Linked DNA regions of Homo sapiens: region 1 is linked to region 2. Evidence: fine-mapped expression QTL. Tissue or cell type: whole blood. Region 2 holds a variant in brackets; the other region holds the start of a gene. All regions are shown on one strand. Distances are between the middles of the regions.

Evidence for each region. PIP is the estimated chance that this variant, and not a neighbour inherited with it, causes the effect.
Region 1: it holds the start of PRP4K, and the variant in region 2 is fine-mapped to the expression of PRP4K in whole blood (TOPMed, PIP 0.92).

The regions. Positions count from the first base shown.
Region 1 is chr6:4,017,590-4,025,773 of GRCh38, reverse strand. It overlaps PRP4K (pre-mRNA processing factor kinase PRP4K), which reads right to left and starts at 4,474. Exons shown (of 15, transcript NM_003913.5): 1 at 4,308-4,474. The coding sequence starts at 4,348. LOC124901245 (a long non-coding RNA gene) reads left to right here and starts at 4,607. Exons shown (of 2, transcript XR_007059415.1): 1 at 4,607-6,954. RefSeq lists enhancers at 3,232-3,291, 4,334-4,643, 7,173-7,222.
Region 2 is chr6:4,060,396-4,068,579 of GRCh38, reverse strand. It overlaps PRP4K (pre-mRNA processing factor kinase PRP4K), which reads right to left. Exons shown (of 15, transcript NM_003913.5): 15 at 3,597-8,167. The coding sequence ends at 7,964. FAM217A (family with sequence similarity 217 member A) reads left to right here. Exons shown (of 7, transcript NM_173563.3): 7 at 1-213. Among named protein-coding and RNA genes, the nearest start is that of FAM217A, 15 kb to the left of the region's middle. The variant T/C (reference allele first, on the strand shown) is at 3,868.

The sequences.
Region 1 (8,184 bases), 43 kb after region 2:
AATTTACAAAAATCTTAGGAGTTTCATTAAAAATTGTTAAGAGTCTACCCATAGAGGAATCAACTTCTATCAACAGAAAATCTAGCTCCTAGAGCTTCTGGGAATTAGAAATACATCATGATGACCAGTATCACTGTAGAAGGGTCATTCCCATGAGTGACTAGTTTCCATTGTAAATTAATGAGTATTATCTCAAGAAATAATGAGTAGGTTCCTGCTAAAAATGCTACCAGCTCGGTACAATCAGGTTAACCTTAATTATAGCATTTTCTTATACAGGGGCTAGGCATACAATGGATCTTTACCAGTCTCAACTCATCTCTCAATGCAAATGTCACAAATCACAACTAAAGTCTGACCAGGTCAATCTGGAAAACTTGAAACATTGAGTCAATGGCATAATGTATTACATACAATGGGCCTGTGCTAAAACAGCTAAATTAGCTTTATCATCAACGACTTTCTTCTAAAGCTCAAGAAAAAGGTTTCTTGTTAAGAAACCTAACGGCCCTCTTGGATAGTTTATACTGACAATAAATATAGGCCATATATATTTCATTTATATAAATTTACGCTTTAACATTAACATTTTACAATTTAATATCCCACATTTAGCCAAGTGGATGTGTATACCAACCTGGTCACAACAGGTTTATCACAAAATATTTATTGAGAACCTATTGAATATTGGATAACATTCTTCAGATCACATTATTTGGAAGCAAAGGTGAATGAGAAGTGCAGACAACATGGGGTTGCTTAACAGTATTTATTTGTTTTGTTAAGTTTTACCTTTTAAAAAACCCATGTCTTGAGGCACCCAGCACAATGAATGAAAATCGTGGAACGCCTTTAAAATAACATAGTCACGGTCAGGTGCAGTGGCTTATGACTGTAATCCCAACACTTTTGGGAGGCTGAGACTGGCGGATCACCTGAGGTCAGGAGTTTGAGACCAGCCTGGCCAATATGGTGAAATCCCGTCTCTACTAAAAATACAAAAATTAGCACGGCATGGTGGTGCGTGCCTGTAATCCCAGCTACTCGGGAGACAGAGACAGGAGAATCACTTGAACCTGGGACGCAGAGGTTGCAGTGAGCCAAGATTGCGCTACTGCACTCCAGCCTGGGCAACAGAGACTCGGTCTCAAAAAAATAAAATAGTCACCAATCACCAACCACCAGTGTTATTTTAACTTCTTCTTTCACATTTTTTTCCAAACAATAGTCTTAGTGAATTTATTTGGTAGGCATTCAAAATATACAGAGACACAGAGAACTGACTGATTTAAATTTGTGTATGAATAAAGCCGTTTTTAAGCTAGACAATTCTTTAAATTTTTTTTTAGTGGCGAGCAAAGTGAACGCCACTGCTATTTACCAGGAAAGTAATTAAGCCTATTTCTCTGACAAGTTAAAATGTATATATCTTTTAAGAAACTGGGTCTCACTATGTTGCCTGGGCTAGATTCAAACTCCTAGGCTCAAATGATCCTCCTGCCTCAGACTCCCTAGTACCTGCAGCACTTGAGCCCAGTAGTTCAAGAACAGCCTGGGCAACATGGGAAGACTCTGCCTCTACAAAAATACTTAAAAATTAGCTAGGCATGGCTCGGCACGGTAGCTCACGCCTGTAATCCCAGAACTTTGGGAGTCTGAGGTGGGCGGATCACGAGGTCAGGAGATCGGGACCATCCTGGCCAACAAGGTGAAACCCCATCTCTACTAAAAATACAAAAATTAGCTGGGCGTGGTGGTACGTGCCTGTAATCCCAGCTACTCGGGAGGCTGAGGCAGGAGAACTGCTTGAACCAGGGAGTCCAAGGTTTCAGTGAGCCAAGATCGCACCACTGCAATCTAGCCTGGAGAGAAAGTGAAACTCCGTCTCAAAAAAAAAAAAATTAGCTGGGCATGGTGTCATATGCCTGTGGTCCCAGCTACTCCGGAGGCTGGAGTAGGAGGATCACTTGAGGCTGAGGCTACAATGAGCCATGATAATGTTACTGTACTCCAGTCTGGGTGACAAGAGCTCGTGTTTCAAAAATAAATAAAATGAACAAAAAGAATTAATGTAGCTATAAAAATCAGAATGGGTCCAAAAGACCAACTAGTCTTAAAACATTCCCTCTGGTCTCTGCTTTGCCAAATCAGGTTTGAGAAATTAGTTCTCAATAAATTAGACATGTCACATCAAAAAATGTATCTTTCTGGGACAGTGGAAAAAAACAAAAATAATTTCATACTTGACAAGCAATTTAAAAAGAAGCCACATTGTATAGTGGGAGGCCAGACAGTACAATAGTTAGCAGCAGGGCTTTAGAACCAGACTGCCTGAGTTTAAATGGGTGTGCCACTGAGTGTGACCTTGAGCAAGTTACTTAATTTCTCTGTGTTTCAGTTTCATCATCTCTAAAATAAGGAAAATAAACGTATCTACCTCCATAGGGTTGTTAAAAGAATTAAAGCCTTCAGGGAGCTTAAAAGCTGCTTCTTATATTTATTCTTTCTAAATTTTCTGTTTTGAATAGATTCTATATAACTGTAAACTACTCAGTGTTCTCTAAAGAACTGTTGTAGACACTATATTCAGGGACTCACTATGAGCACCAGGCATAGTTTGCTTTCATACCAAATGGTTATCTTCTTTGTTAAATACTTTCAAACTACTGAAAGTGAGACATATACAGACCAAATATTCCATTTACACCAAGTGCTCTGTGGGGAAGGGAAGGGAAATTAAAGATTATCTCTGTTACTCATACAGCAGAGGCCTAAATATGTATTTTTGAAATTATTAAGTCTAATATTATTTGAATACAGTATGTGAATAAACTATGGCTGACCCACTCCTGGAAATGAATCTGAAACATCCCTAAAATCAAATAAATGGACATAATATTACAGAACTTTTCAGATTAGTAGAAAATGTAACCACATAGCATGAGATCTGCACGGTACTGGCATAAACACTGTAATTGTGCCACACAATGAACTTGGTGAGAAACAGTAAGAGGTTAAAGCTAATTTAAAACTTCAGAATCCATTTGTTCTCTGCTAAGTCAAATTGTAAAAATAATACAGCAGTTTTGAAAAGCCCTTAATTAAAAATTCCGTTTCTCTGCCTAGCTGAGTAATGCAGATGATTGAGGAGCCCAAAACTGGATGCACAGCAATTAAGTGTCAGGTTGTCTGGTGGCAAAGATTTCTTCTATCGCTCAGTCACAAGTTGCTGGGAGACTATACCTCTTTCTAAGATGGCTGGAAACAGATCAGACAGTGCAGATGCAAAAAAAAACAAAAAACAAAACAAAAAAAAAAAACGGTCGCTATAGGAACATTGCCGTAAAATCCATTCTCTCTGTTAAGGTTCTTGTTTGAGTTTTCCTAACATAGACATGAACAGCAAAATACTGCTTTAAGTTAACCAATGGTTAACCTTTGCAGCATACACTCGTATTTTTTTTTTTTTCATTTTTCATTTGGCCGCATGGATTCTTAATGTTAGCTTAATTATAGACATAAAGTGGTTTGGCAGTAGCTAGCAATTCCCACTACTCCTTCCACTCGTCCTCCTAAAGAAGGGTTATAAACTCAGGCAAAAAAAAAAAAAAAAAAAAAATGCCAGGCCTCAAAACCAAAGACTCTATCTTACTTTGCCTCAAGTTTGCAAGTTGGTAAAAAAGCTGCCGGTAGGCACTCAAAACAAAACAAAACAATACTGGGTGACTGCTGGACTAAAGAGTACAAGGTGACGAGATCAAGTATCCCGCTAGCCACAGACTAGCTCTGGGATGGCCAGAGAGTGTGACCCCAGCACCTCCGCTCTCTGCTTTCAGGTCCTAAACTGACACCAGTAAAAGGACGACTGGGGGTACCGCATGAGGAAGAAAAGACTTAGGGCTTGGCCCGCCTGCTGCCACTGACCCTCGTGTCCCCAACACAGATGCCGCTAAGAGCTGCGGCCAGGGAGCTCAGATGGGTCCCCAAAAGAGGCATAGGAAAGCGCGACCTCACTGCCGCGGCAGCCGCCACGCGCACCGGACCTGTAGAGGCCGCTCGCGCCTACGCCTCCCGGGGCAACGACGCGCGGCAGGCCGCGGCCGCCTTCACCCCAGCAGCCACGGCCTCTGGGAGAAGGAAGCTCGAAGGCCGCCTGCTCCCCATGCCTCCCACCCCACAACGAATCGCGCCGGAAAAAGCAAAGTTTGACTCTCGCCGTTAGGCCCGAACTTTCCCGCCACCCCGTGCAGCTCCCACTCGGCAGTCCCCGGGCTCCAGCTTCTGGCCCACTCACAGAGACTACTTACTCTGGCTGCTCCCGTAGCGACTGGGTCTCCGCGGCGGCCATCTTGAACTTCCTGACTCCTCGGCGGCGGTGGCGGCGGCTCCCGGACGGTGGAGGGTAGGGGAAGTGGAGGAAGAAGGAAAAGAGCTGCCGCGCATGTGCCGACCGTGTAGGGAAGAGCTGGGTTCTGAGTCCGCGCTAAGAATCCGGATATAAAACCCCACGTCCCGGGACTAGCGCAGGGCGTAGTGTCGCAGCTTCCGGGAGCATGGTGGGCGGTGCTGCTAAGGATTGAGGTCGAGTGTCAAGCTTGAGCTCTTCAGTCAATGCTAGAAATGGACGTTTAGTTATTGAATCCCGCTAACGAGGGGAGCCAACAAGAGAGGGATGTCGGCATCGGGTGTGCGGTTCCAAGAACTGATTGGCTGTGGAGATTAGAAGTTAGGTGAAAATTCTCTTAAACTCGGGCAAACGAATTGATGATTTTTCCCCTGGTCGGTGTTAGAGACACAGTAAATGCTTAACCATCTCGCTAGACAGCTCAACTGAAGTGGCATTAACTTCCCGGGAAAGTGTGTAGAAAGGCATTTTTAAATACTGTAAACTCGAACGTAAATATCTTTTAATGTGGAACTGTTACTACATTTAACACTGAACATCTTTTCAACTTTTACATAGTTCAAGGGTGACACGATTCAGTTCGTTATTTCCGTAATTGGAACGTGTAATGTTTTTTGGCCCAAGTTGCGTTATGTGATTTTGTTTTCTTCTATAACGACTCTACAGTAATGGGGTAGAATGGAATATTGTGGGGAAAACATTTACTGGCTCTTGGAGAACTCTCAAAACCAATTAGGTTCTTTAATTCCTCTTTAAAAAAATATTTCTCGCCTGGCGCTGTGGCTCACCCCTGTAATCCCAGCACCTTGGGAGGCCGAGGCGGGCGGATCACCTGAGGCCAGGATTTGGAGACCAGCCTGGCCAACATGGTGAAACCCCGTCTCTATTAAAAATACAAAAAATTAGCTGGGCGTGGTGGCGCTCGCCTATAATCCCAGCTACTCCGGAGGCTGAGGCAGGAGAATCGCTTGAACCCGAGAGGCGGAGTTTGCACTGAGATCACGCCACTGCACTCCAGCCTGGGCGACAGAGCAAGATTCCATCTCAAAAAAAAAAAAAAAATTATCCATACTTTGGAACCTGGAAGCAGCGTGACGATCACTTTCATTCTTGTAATCATCTGAGTTTGCCTTTGTCCTAGAAAATTGAGTTCGGAATCTCCAGACTCCATACATATCTCTTGATTTCCAGGGGAGAAGGGTTTTAAATGTTCTTACAAAATGTCTCTTGTTGCCTGAATTCCAAACGTTTTGAAATGTTAGGGCCGGGCGCGGTGGCTCACGCCTGCAATCCTCTAGCACTTTGGGAGGCCGAGGCGGGCGGATTGCCTGAACTCAAGAGTTCGAGTCCAGCCTGGCCAACATAGCGAAACTCCGTCTCTGCTAAAAATACAAAAAATTAGCCGGCGTGGTGGCGCCTGTAGTCTCAGCTACTCGGGAGGCTGAGGCAAGAGAATCGCTTGAACCCGGGAGGCCGAGATCGCGCCATTGCACTCCAGCCTGGGCAACAAAAGCAAAAACGCCGTCTCAAATAAATAAATGAAATAAACTTAGTAAACTATTTTTAAATAATGTTAAAATTAACGGTGTACGTAGTAGAACTGTGAGAGATCTCATCTTGGAAATAGAGTGATATACTTGAAGGCAAGAGATTGGGTCAGGTACTATTAACACGTTTTACACATGAACAAACCGACACTAAGAGGTAAGGTAATTTGCTTATGATTGAGTTCCCAAGTACAAAGCTGATTTTTGAACTAAAATCTGACTCGAAAATCTGCTCTTTTCTTATCAGGCTGCTTCCTACAAAAATATAACCTCGCTTAGCATCTGCTTGTTAAGCATCCACCCTCACAGCTCTTTGGCATTCAAATGTTTGTTGAGTAGGGGTAATAGAGCACTACGTTCGAATCAGAAAATGCCTTATTTTTCCTTGCTTGCAAGAGCCTATTATAAATAAATGCCTTGTTTTCGCTGTGTCTCTTTCTTGTTGTCGAGAGCTCAGGCTGGTCTTAATTTCTGCAACCATAGTATTATCTCCCAGGTCTCCTTCTGCCCTGTGTATTTTGCAGTTATGCTTTATGTGGAGATGAAGCATCCTAAGTGTGGAGAACGATATATGGGGCCCGAACAATAGGTGCTGAAGCCAGATTGTGTGACTAAAGTTGGTATTTGAACAAACCAAGTGTTTATTTTTTTAAAGAGCATGGTAAAAACTAAGTTTCAAAAATCGATGCTGGCAAAAATTTCCTTGAAAAAATTCTCACCAAGTTCACTTGCACGGTACTACCTGGGGAATGAAACACATTTGTCAAGGACACGCCCAAAACTATGTTGCTGTTGTAATTTTCAAAGACTGGGAACTGCGGCAGGGGGAGTTACAATTAAAGCAAACATCGGCGTATCAGTTTATTCATTCAGCAAACGTTTATGAAGCAACAAACGTATGCCCAATATTTCAGTCTTGCTGCTCTTCCTCCCCAAATTCAGGAACCTTTGCAACGGAAAGCGGCCTCGGGCAGGCGCCTTTTGAGCAGAGGAGTAAAACCGGTAAGTCAGCAGTGGAACCCGCCTCCCCGGAAATCCTTGGAGGGGGCGGGGCCCTGGGGAGCGCGCTCTTCCCAGCGGCAGCTGGGGAGGCGCATGCGTACTTGCGTCATCGTTGGGTAGCAGCGGGGAGGCGTGGGAGGATCTGAGGCCTGCGGTGGGCCTTGGTCCCTTCTCTCCCCGCCCCGAAGCCGCCTGCTCAACCTGAGGGCCACCGGCCTCTATCCGTCGGTGCCGATGCTCCTTGCTTCCCAGCCAGAGCGTCTCATCTCTGGGCCCGGAGCCCCAGGCTCGTTCTCCTCAGCCCCTGCCGGCGGCGGCGCTCTTGCAGCCATTCCTGTGAGGTCGTTTTTCGGAGCAGCCGGGCCGGCCGAGGAGTAAGTAGGCGCCAGAGTTCTAGCTCGGGCATCTGCCTCGGGGCCCTGTCGCCGCCGCGCCCCGGATCCTGCGTTGGTCCTGTCCGATAAAGCGGAGGTCGGCCCTGCTTGCTGACGAGACCGTAAAAACCACGGCGCTTGGCGCCCTGCCGCCGCCACACCACACCAAAGTGTACCTGCCCGAGGCTGGCTTCGGGCGCGAGCTTGCATTTGTGACTTTCTCTTACCGTCTTTGTTTGCTTCGTTTTAAGTATTACTTCCAGATAAGGGACACATTCTCGAAATACTTTGAAAACAGTTTTGAATTTTGTTCCTCCCGTTGAAACGGATTAAATTTGGACCTTTCAAGCTACACTGTGCAATCATCAATCTCAATAAGCTCTTAATAGGCTCATTCTTCCGTAGGCTACAAACAAAATAAAGATCATAACATCCTGCGGAGGAAGCCATTGGTCCATGTAGAGTCGCCAGATGTCAATTAAGAGTAGATCGCTTTTCAGAGAATACTTAACGACTCTGGTTTAGACCTAGACTTGGAACTTTGAGGTGTTTGGAACACTGGGCAGAATTTTCCTTTGTTACAAAACAAAGTTTATGAGAACGTAATTTGTTTTTGTTGTTTTTGTTGTTAGTATTGAAGCAATTTTGGTGCAAACCAAAGGATAACAAAGCAAAACAATGAAAATCACCCAGAGTTCCATTACCCACACTGAACCAACTTGAATATATTGGTTTATTTTGGCTTTTTTCCATATGAAATGTTAAATTTTCTTGTACTCACGTGTAGAATATGATAGTTTGCTCTTTCATGTAACATGTCTCCCAATTTTTACATACATAATTCTAGTTTCAGTAA
Region 2 (8,184 bases):
GTTGCTTGATGTGATATGGAGTAGAACTTGTGAAAAGCACTGCTGAGATGTCTATATATAAACCCACAGGCTTCTATACTGACATATTTCACAATCTTTTGCATGTTGTGTTTCAAGTAAATGGTTCACTTGGTAGACTATTCTATTCAAAAGGCTACTCTTTTTTCAGTGATTGTTTTCCAGTATAATTCCATCAATAAATGGTATAATTGACTTATTGCAGCTGTAGTTCTTGTCATATAGTCATAAGAGTTGATTTTTTAAAAAGTCTTTCTCACTCTGGTATCATTTTTTTTTTCCTGTGCCCTCATCTCCACAGATCTATCATTTTGACCTATCCTTTGGGCATTTACTTGGCCCTTAAAAGCTAAAGAAGTTGTTGTTCTGTTAATGTACAAGATCCTCTAGATCCTCCTAGCTCCTCCCAAATCCTTAGAAATTTTCTGTCCCTGGCCTTTCTTTGTCATTTACATGAAAGATAGTTCTCTTTGGGGCCCAACTACAGGTTTAGGCTTGAAATAACCCTCTTCCACTCAGATCCAGTATTTTCTAAATGTTGAAGGAAAAATTGAGTAAGATCATTGTCCACAGAGCAGCCAAAATGTCATGTTACTAGAGTTTTTTCCAAGGCTCTGCACTGCTGGAAGTCTTAAGGCTGGTTAGTTGAAATTCATTCAGCCAACACATAACTCATTAACTAGCGAAAAAGGAAAACTATGTGACTGACAAACTTTACTGCCCCTAAGAATCAAGGAAACAAATAGAGTCCTAGCTTCTATTGCAGGCCCTCTGAAACACAATCTTTGGAATTGGGACCCATGGACACACATTATAAACAAATATTCCAGGTGATTTTAATGCAGGTGGTTCTTGGATCACACTTTGAAAGATGTAAAGGAAAGGATTGATGTAACATACATAAATTAGAGGTTCAGATATTTTGGAATATACTGTGTTTGGGTTTTAAGTGGATGGTTGGTGAATTCAAATTAATTTTTCTAAAAATTAAAAAAATACACAATTAAAACTTCAACCATTATCCAAAGGTACCAAATGAAAAGTAAGGTGGCTGTGCGTGGTGGCTCACACCTGTAATCCCAGCACTTTGGGAAGCTGAGGTGGGTGGATCACGAGGTCAGGAGTTCAAGACCAGCCTGACCAAGATAGTGAAACCCTGTCTCTACTAAAAATACAAAAATTAGCTGGGCGTGGTGGTGGGTGCCTGTAATCCCAGCTACTCTGGAGGCTGAGACAGAGAACTGCTTGAACCCGGGAGGTGGAGGTTGCAGTGAGCCGACATTGCCCATAGCCTGGGCAACAGAGCAAAACTCCATCTCAAAAAAAAAAAAAAAAAAAAAGCCGTTCCCCCCGTAACCCCACACACAAAGACAGCCACTAAATGTTTGGGTGTCATCCCTGCAAATGAGATGGAATATTGGAATATTTGAGTTAGGGATGAGTGAATTAATGAATAATTCAAATAAATGCAGAAGAGAACAACTGTAGCTTTTCCAGCTTTAGTAGCTTAAGGTTCAAAGTTTTCTTAGAGGCAGGGGTCAGAGAGCATGCTTAGTTTTTAATTTCAAAGAATTTTCTAGAATCATATAGCACAGCAATAGAAAACAAACGTAATTGGTTAGTCTTAGCATAATGAAATTTTACCTGTATCCCATACAATCAGTCCCGTTAATCCAAAGTGGTATAATATCCCTCTCATAAAAGTATATGCCAAAGTGGACTTACATTTTCACTAAATTCCAACTTGCAGTGACCTGTTTCCCACAAACCATCTTTAATTCTTACAATTCCTTCTAACTTGTGTACTGAACCTTTTTGACAAGCCCTCTGTGTCCATTCTCGTTTCTACTTTCCTTAGCTACCTGGATTCTTTCCCTCACCCCCAGGGTTATGATGTAATTTTTATTTGTAAAACCTTCAGAAAGGACATGCCTGTTTGCTCACCACTGTATCCTGGCAGGTAGTACTTGACTACCAACTGTCATGCATGACATAGTGGTTACAAGCACTAGCTCTGTCGCTAGGCTGTCTAAATTCGAACCCAGACTCCTGCCACTGAACACCTAACACCTTTAGCAGTTTCCTTAACCTCTCTTGCTTCACTTTTCTGATGGGTAAAGTGGGTAGACTGTCTTTATCTCATATAATCATGTGCGGGTTAAATGACCAGCAGCAAAAGTGCCTGGCATATACAAGTATTCACAAAATACATTAGGGAAGTAAGAATGACACAGGAGGGCAAACCATCTCGAGAATGGACCTCCTTAGCACTAGTTAGGTGCAGAACAATAATTCCTAACAATGTCCTGTTTCTTGCAGGGCATGTGCCAAGGCACAGGGAAATGGTACGGTGCAACAGACACAAACCCTTTCAGTAAGACTAGGCGTGGGAATGGGCATGGGAGATGGGACTGAGACCAGAAGTGGCAAGTTTTGTAGGGATTAGAGATGTATCATCTCAAATTTATCCTGTAGACTGACAGGGGAAAAAGACCTGGTTCAAACAGGTGAAGTGGGACCCACTTGTCTACATATGTAGTGGACAAAACTGGAGACATGAATACAAAATATTTGGCTATTTTTCATACTTGGTGGAAGTCAACGCCCACCATTATCTTTAAATAAGAAAACATTTGGCAGTTTATAACACACATATAAATTCTGTTCGGGAAAACCTAGTTTGCTGATAAATACCCATGTTTAGCTCTCCAGTCATTGATGGTCCTCAGCTCACTGGATCTTCATGAGGTTGAATCTTTCTAATTAGAGAAAGTATGTGTGGCCGGGTGTGGTGGCTCATGCCTGTAATCCCAGCACTTTGGGAGGCTCAGGCGTGTGGATCACCTGAGGTCAGGAGGCGGAGGCGAGCTGTGATCGTGCCACTGCACTCCAGCCTGGCGATAGACGGCGAGTCCGTCTCAAAAAAAAGAAAAAAAGAAAGAAAAAAAGTATGTGTGAAAGGTCCTTAACCAATACATCCTGCATACTATTTTCCCTAAAATGTACCAGATACAATAACCTCATAGCCACTTTAGATAGTTATGCAGTCTAACAAAATTATAACTGGGGCCTTTACATGAAGACTATCCAGAGCCAGTGCCATTTGACCATTTCTCAGCCCAGAATCAAGCATACTAGCTTCTACCTGCCACTCTGCGGTGGTTAGCTCCAATGGGGTGGGTGGGTGCATTCTACAAGGCCATTCTGCCTGCCTTATCTGCTTTGCATGCACTAAGATTCACAAACTACACTGTGAATCTATTTTACTCACTGTTTTGAAAAGCCAAAAACAGTTCCTTAAAAGAAGAAAATAAAGAGTGGGTATACTGAGGATAAGAGCCCAAGATTTGTCAAGCTATCATGTGAGCAATGAACCAATTTATTTTTATCATTATAAAAACAGGAGTTGGCTCATTACTTATCTGTTTCCTTTACTAGGAAAACCAAAGCAGAAATGTATGTAACAGGAACACGAATATAATACACTCTTTGGTGTTGTGCACCTAATGCTTTGAAAATGTTTTGATGTTTGTGAGGAAAATCTGAACTCAACCAAAGAAAAAAACCAGGAGACAATATGATAATAAGAGGCATATTTTATTCAGTTTCCCAGTAAGTCAATTAGAAACATGCACTGCTAAAATGCAAGTTACAATTCAAATGGTACCATAAATAATTAGAGTACACACTGAGCATTTTCAGAAATCAGCTTCCATATCTTGATCACTAAATGGAAAGGTTCTTCAGAACAGTCCCTTACCCTATATACAGAAGGAGAAGAAAAATTAAGGATGCCATAATGACATCTATCAGAATAACTGGAAAACATTTTAATTTAGCATACATTAT[T/C]GACATGTAAAAAACACAAATGAATTTGTCGTGAACATTTCTATAAGGAAGACATTCCATTAGGAGGAGAATGATAAAATTCATGTTGAATATATGCTGGAACTAGGATACTATTAAGAAAGAAACACATTTATGAAGCCCAATTGGTAAAGATGTCATTATAACTAAATGAGGAAAATTACATATTTGAATATATGGCTTTCTTTCCTATCTTCAACATTCAAAAGGGCCATTTCTTAACTACTTCGCCTAAATTTTATCATGTTGATTCCTTTGTTTCATCTCAGAGATTTTATTTCTACCCCATATAGCTAGAGTTCTGCTTACAAATGATAAAATACAGGTAAAGCATAAGAGGAATGCAAATATGGAACAAAACTGAGAACATTACATTTTACTTACTCTACCACATACCATAAAACAGTACATAAATATTTCATTTTGAAAAAAAAGTCCTGAGTACTTATTTTTGTTAGGAATAAAGTGGTACTTAATAATGGCAAAACATTTCTATTATTTTAAAACAAAATTTTGAGACAGTAGAGTGAAATGAGATAGCTATCAGGGAATGAAGAAAACAGGATGTATTAATAACGATTTAAGGGTGAATATAAGATGCTCCCCCTGCTCAAAACCTCGAAATTCCAACCTCATTTCTGATGATCTTCAAGAATAAAGTCTATCCAGAGTGTAAAAAATGTCTATGCTTTCCAGATCTCAACTATTCTCCCAACCCTAGAAAAAACTGTAACATCTTTGAGAGCCGTACCTAACACTTCTATGAGCCCTCAAGTCTGACAATCACTTGATATCACTTTTGCCATAAAGTATAATAAAAGCAAAAAATTCACGGCAGATAGCATTTGAAAAGCATACAGCTACTCTAAAAGAGGAATGCACATTTATTCAGGAGCATTCACTAAATAAATTCAATCTAGTAGGTCTTGCAGAGTTCCAAATTGCACCTCAGCAAAATTACAGAGTGTAGGAAAATCATGTAACGTACATAAGACAGTTGATAGGGTTCCTTTCAAATAGGTAGTCTAGATATGCTAAATTGGGGAGTATAAAAAACCCAGAGTATCTTTTTCATTTCCCTTAAAAAAAATGGCTCTGAATATTTTGTCTACTTTAAGACTGGAACACTGGTTAATAACGAGGTTTCTACAGGGTAAGTTGGGGAACAGATACTAAAGGAGTTGAACAGTATTCTTAATATTCCAGTTTGTATTCTTTTGCATCTGCCTAAAGCTGAAGACTACTTTCAGATATATGCTATTCTGGTGGTTGCTGTTTTTCTAAGAATCCTTAACATCCAATTTTGACAACCATGTGTTATGTGGAATCTCAGCATCCAGCAGCCTTTTATATTACTAAAGTTGACCACTATTTTTATTTTAGGGGAGGAGAAACTGGGGGAGGGGAGAGGCAGGAAGTATGATAAAACAAGCACTTTACAGACGCACTCCACAACAGCACTAATTCTAAATACCAAACACCAATAAAACCCAAATCATAATGCTGAAAACTAAAAAATTAGACAAAAAATAAATGAAGGATTGTTTTTTAATAAATCTTTTATAGGACAGAAACCTTAGCTCATGTCTTCTGGTTGTCATCATCTTCCACTGAGCTGCACCTAAAACACAAAGAACAAGTAACAAGCAACTTTGTTTTTTAAAGAACAGGTAACAGTTTTGAAGGTATAAGATGAACTGTTTCTAGTGGAACTTACTTAAAAAATTACATAAAATGAAGCCATAAACATCACCAGAAGCATCAAATTGTCAACTACTTTGGGTGAAAATAACTACAAGAGACTTGAATATGCAGCATATTATCACCGAAATAAATAATGGTGGGAAAATCACTACCCATTTCATTAAGGTAGAATAGCTGCACCTGTGACGCCTTAATTAAAAGGCTTCACTCTACCTGAAGATGAAAATCACCTTGTATTTATTTTAGTAAGTCTAAACCGTGAAGAGACGGGGTGTAGGTTCAGAGGTGGCTTATTATATCATCTATCACCTTCCTGGCTGTAGTTCATTTCATGTCTTTAAATGGAGCAAAACCCACCAGAAGAATCAATGCTGCTATTCTGATTTTCCATTCTTGAATGCACCAAAATGTGCATGCTTGTTGTAATTAGGTGCCTGGGTGAATAAAAAAATCCCATTTACAATTTAAAAATATTATTTAAACCCCTAAAATCTGATTATTTTCCATATTCCTCAGGGAGACAAGCATTAATTTTACCCCCCAAACAGCAAAGATTACATATATTTCTGAAAAATTCTCTTCTACCATGTTAATAATACAAATTCCTTTGTGTTGCAAAACCAAGCTGATTTAAACGATTTTGTCTTAAATTGTTGCTAAATGTTTATCTACACATGCTGTCAGAAATAACCTTGTTAAGAAGGTGAAGCTGGTGTCTCAGCAAATCAGACCCCTTGGAGAAGGCGTCGAATGGCCTGTGCCCCGTTTTCCTTTTTCTCTTTCCGCACCATCAAAAGGAAAAGTGAGAAAATAGCAGAAACATTAGTTAAATCCTGAATTATACCCCATAACCTACAGGAATAATCTCACTACACTGAAAGCTGACAATATTTGTAGGATTTTTTGAAATAATTAGGATCCTAATTATTAATAAACTGGTAATTTTGGCTAGGTTTACATCTTTAACTAATAATACTTTCAATTAAAAACTTTCAGGAAAAAAACAAAAGGTTGCTTTTAACTATTTATGGTTTACCTGACTTACCAGCACTGAAGACAAAAACTTTTAAAAATGGCTACAAATGCCTTGTTCACAAAAGACTTTATTATCTAGTGATGCATACTGAGAACATACAGAAATCTGCATGGTCCACTTCACATGCAGTAGAACAATCTTCACTTTACAATAAGTGAGTGTCAACTGTTTTATGCAATAGACAACACTTTAAAGTCACATTCTTAAAGAAAAGCTTCATTTACAAAAGAAATAAAAGGTAAAGAAGCAATTACCGCTTTTAAAAAGCAGCTGCTTTGTTCAAGAGTGGAAGGTTTATGCCTGTATTGAAAGACAACATGATCACAAATAATGAAAACAATGAACAAATGAAAAACACTTTTACCATAAAGCAGTACACTTTCAAAATGACATACAAATAGTTAAAAATTTCATTACGTTGTCTAGCCTTTAAATATGAGGACTTTCAGAATTAGGCCTCAACATTTGTAATTAGTAAATGAAAACTACGCATCGTTTCTATGTCACTAGGAACTATATTTAACAAAATGTATATAAAGTCTATAGCAAGTTGATTTAAAAAAAGTAAAGTTAATAAGAAACAGTACACTGAAGGCGCTCTATCCATCAAGCGCGTTCTCTTCCAATTTTAAATGTGATGAACAAACAGAAATTGTAACTATGCCACAGTTGCAATGCCAAAAAATAAAACAAGATCAGTTATCACACATGCAGGGAATTCTGCCACAAAGCTAACATCCCTCATTTGTCAGTTGTTCCAATAAAATAACATCTTAAAACACCAGAGATGTTGATGGTTTAGCTTACCTTCAGTGTACTGAATGCTGCACACAACCTGCTTTAAAAGGAGACCATCCCTGCAGGCAGGCTCAAGAAGGAACAGACCCCTTTCGGCACTGACTACACCAAGGGCATGCTGCTGTGGCCTGCACACACACACCTAGGAAAACGTGAATATAAACAGCATTTATGCTGGCCATTTTATCTCAAGACCAAAATGAAGCCAAGTCTGCTAAGAACAAATCAACCACCCAATATTACTACTCATTTCATAACAGATGCTTTTGTCTTTATGTGAACTGCAACCATATACATTAGCACTGTAATTTTGTGCAGTCTTGGCAATTTAAAACAGTCTACAGTGAAATTTCACGTAAGACACAAAACAGATTAACTAACATCTCTAAAAGAAATATCACCCTTGGTGTTAATTCAAATATATCATGCTTCCTCAAATTTGCTGGAGAAATATTTATAAGTTTATATACATTAATAAACTGCTGTGAAATTTCTTCAGTCTTTGTATTTACTCAAACCCTTGGAGTTTCTTCATCTTGTTTAAATTTTTTCCTGGATGAAGGCGTGCTGTAGGGCCTGGTTGATGCTAATTCGTTTAGCTGGGTCCAACATCAGAATCTGGTCCAACAAGTCCTTTAGCTGGTGTACTTTCTTACGTTGGTCTTCAGGAAGTCTCTGGCACCCAATCAAGTCAGCCAACAGGTCCTTAGTTGGATTAATGGTGCTCATAACAGTAACTTTCTCCTAAAAATAATTTTTAA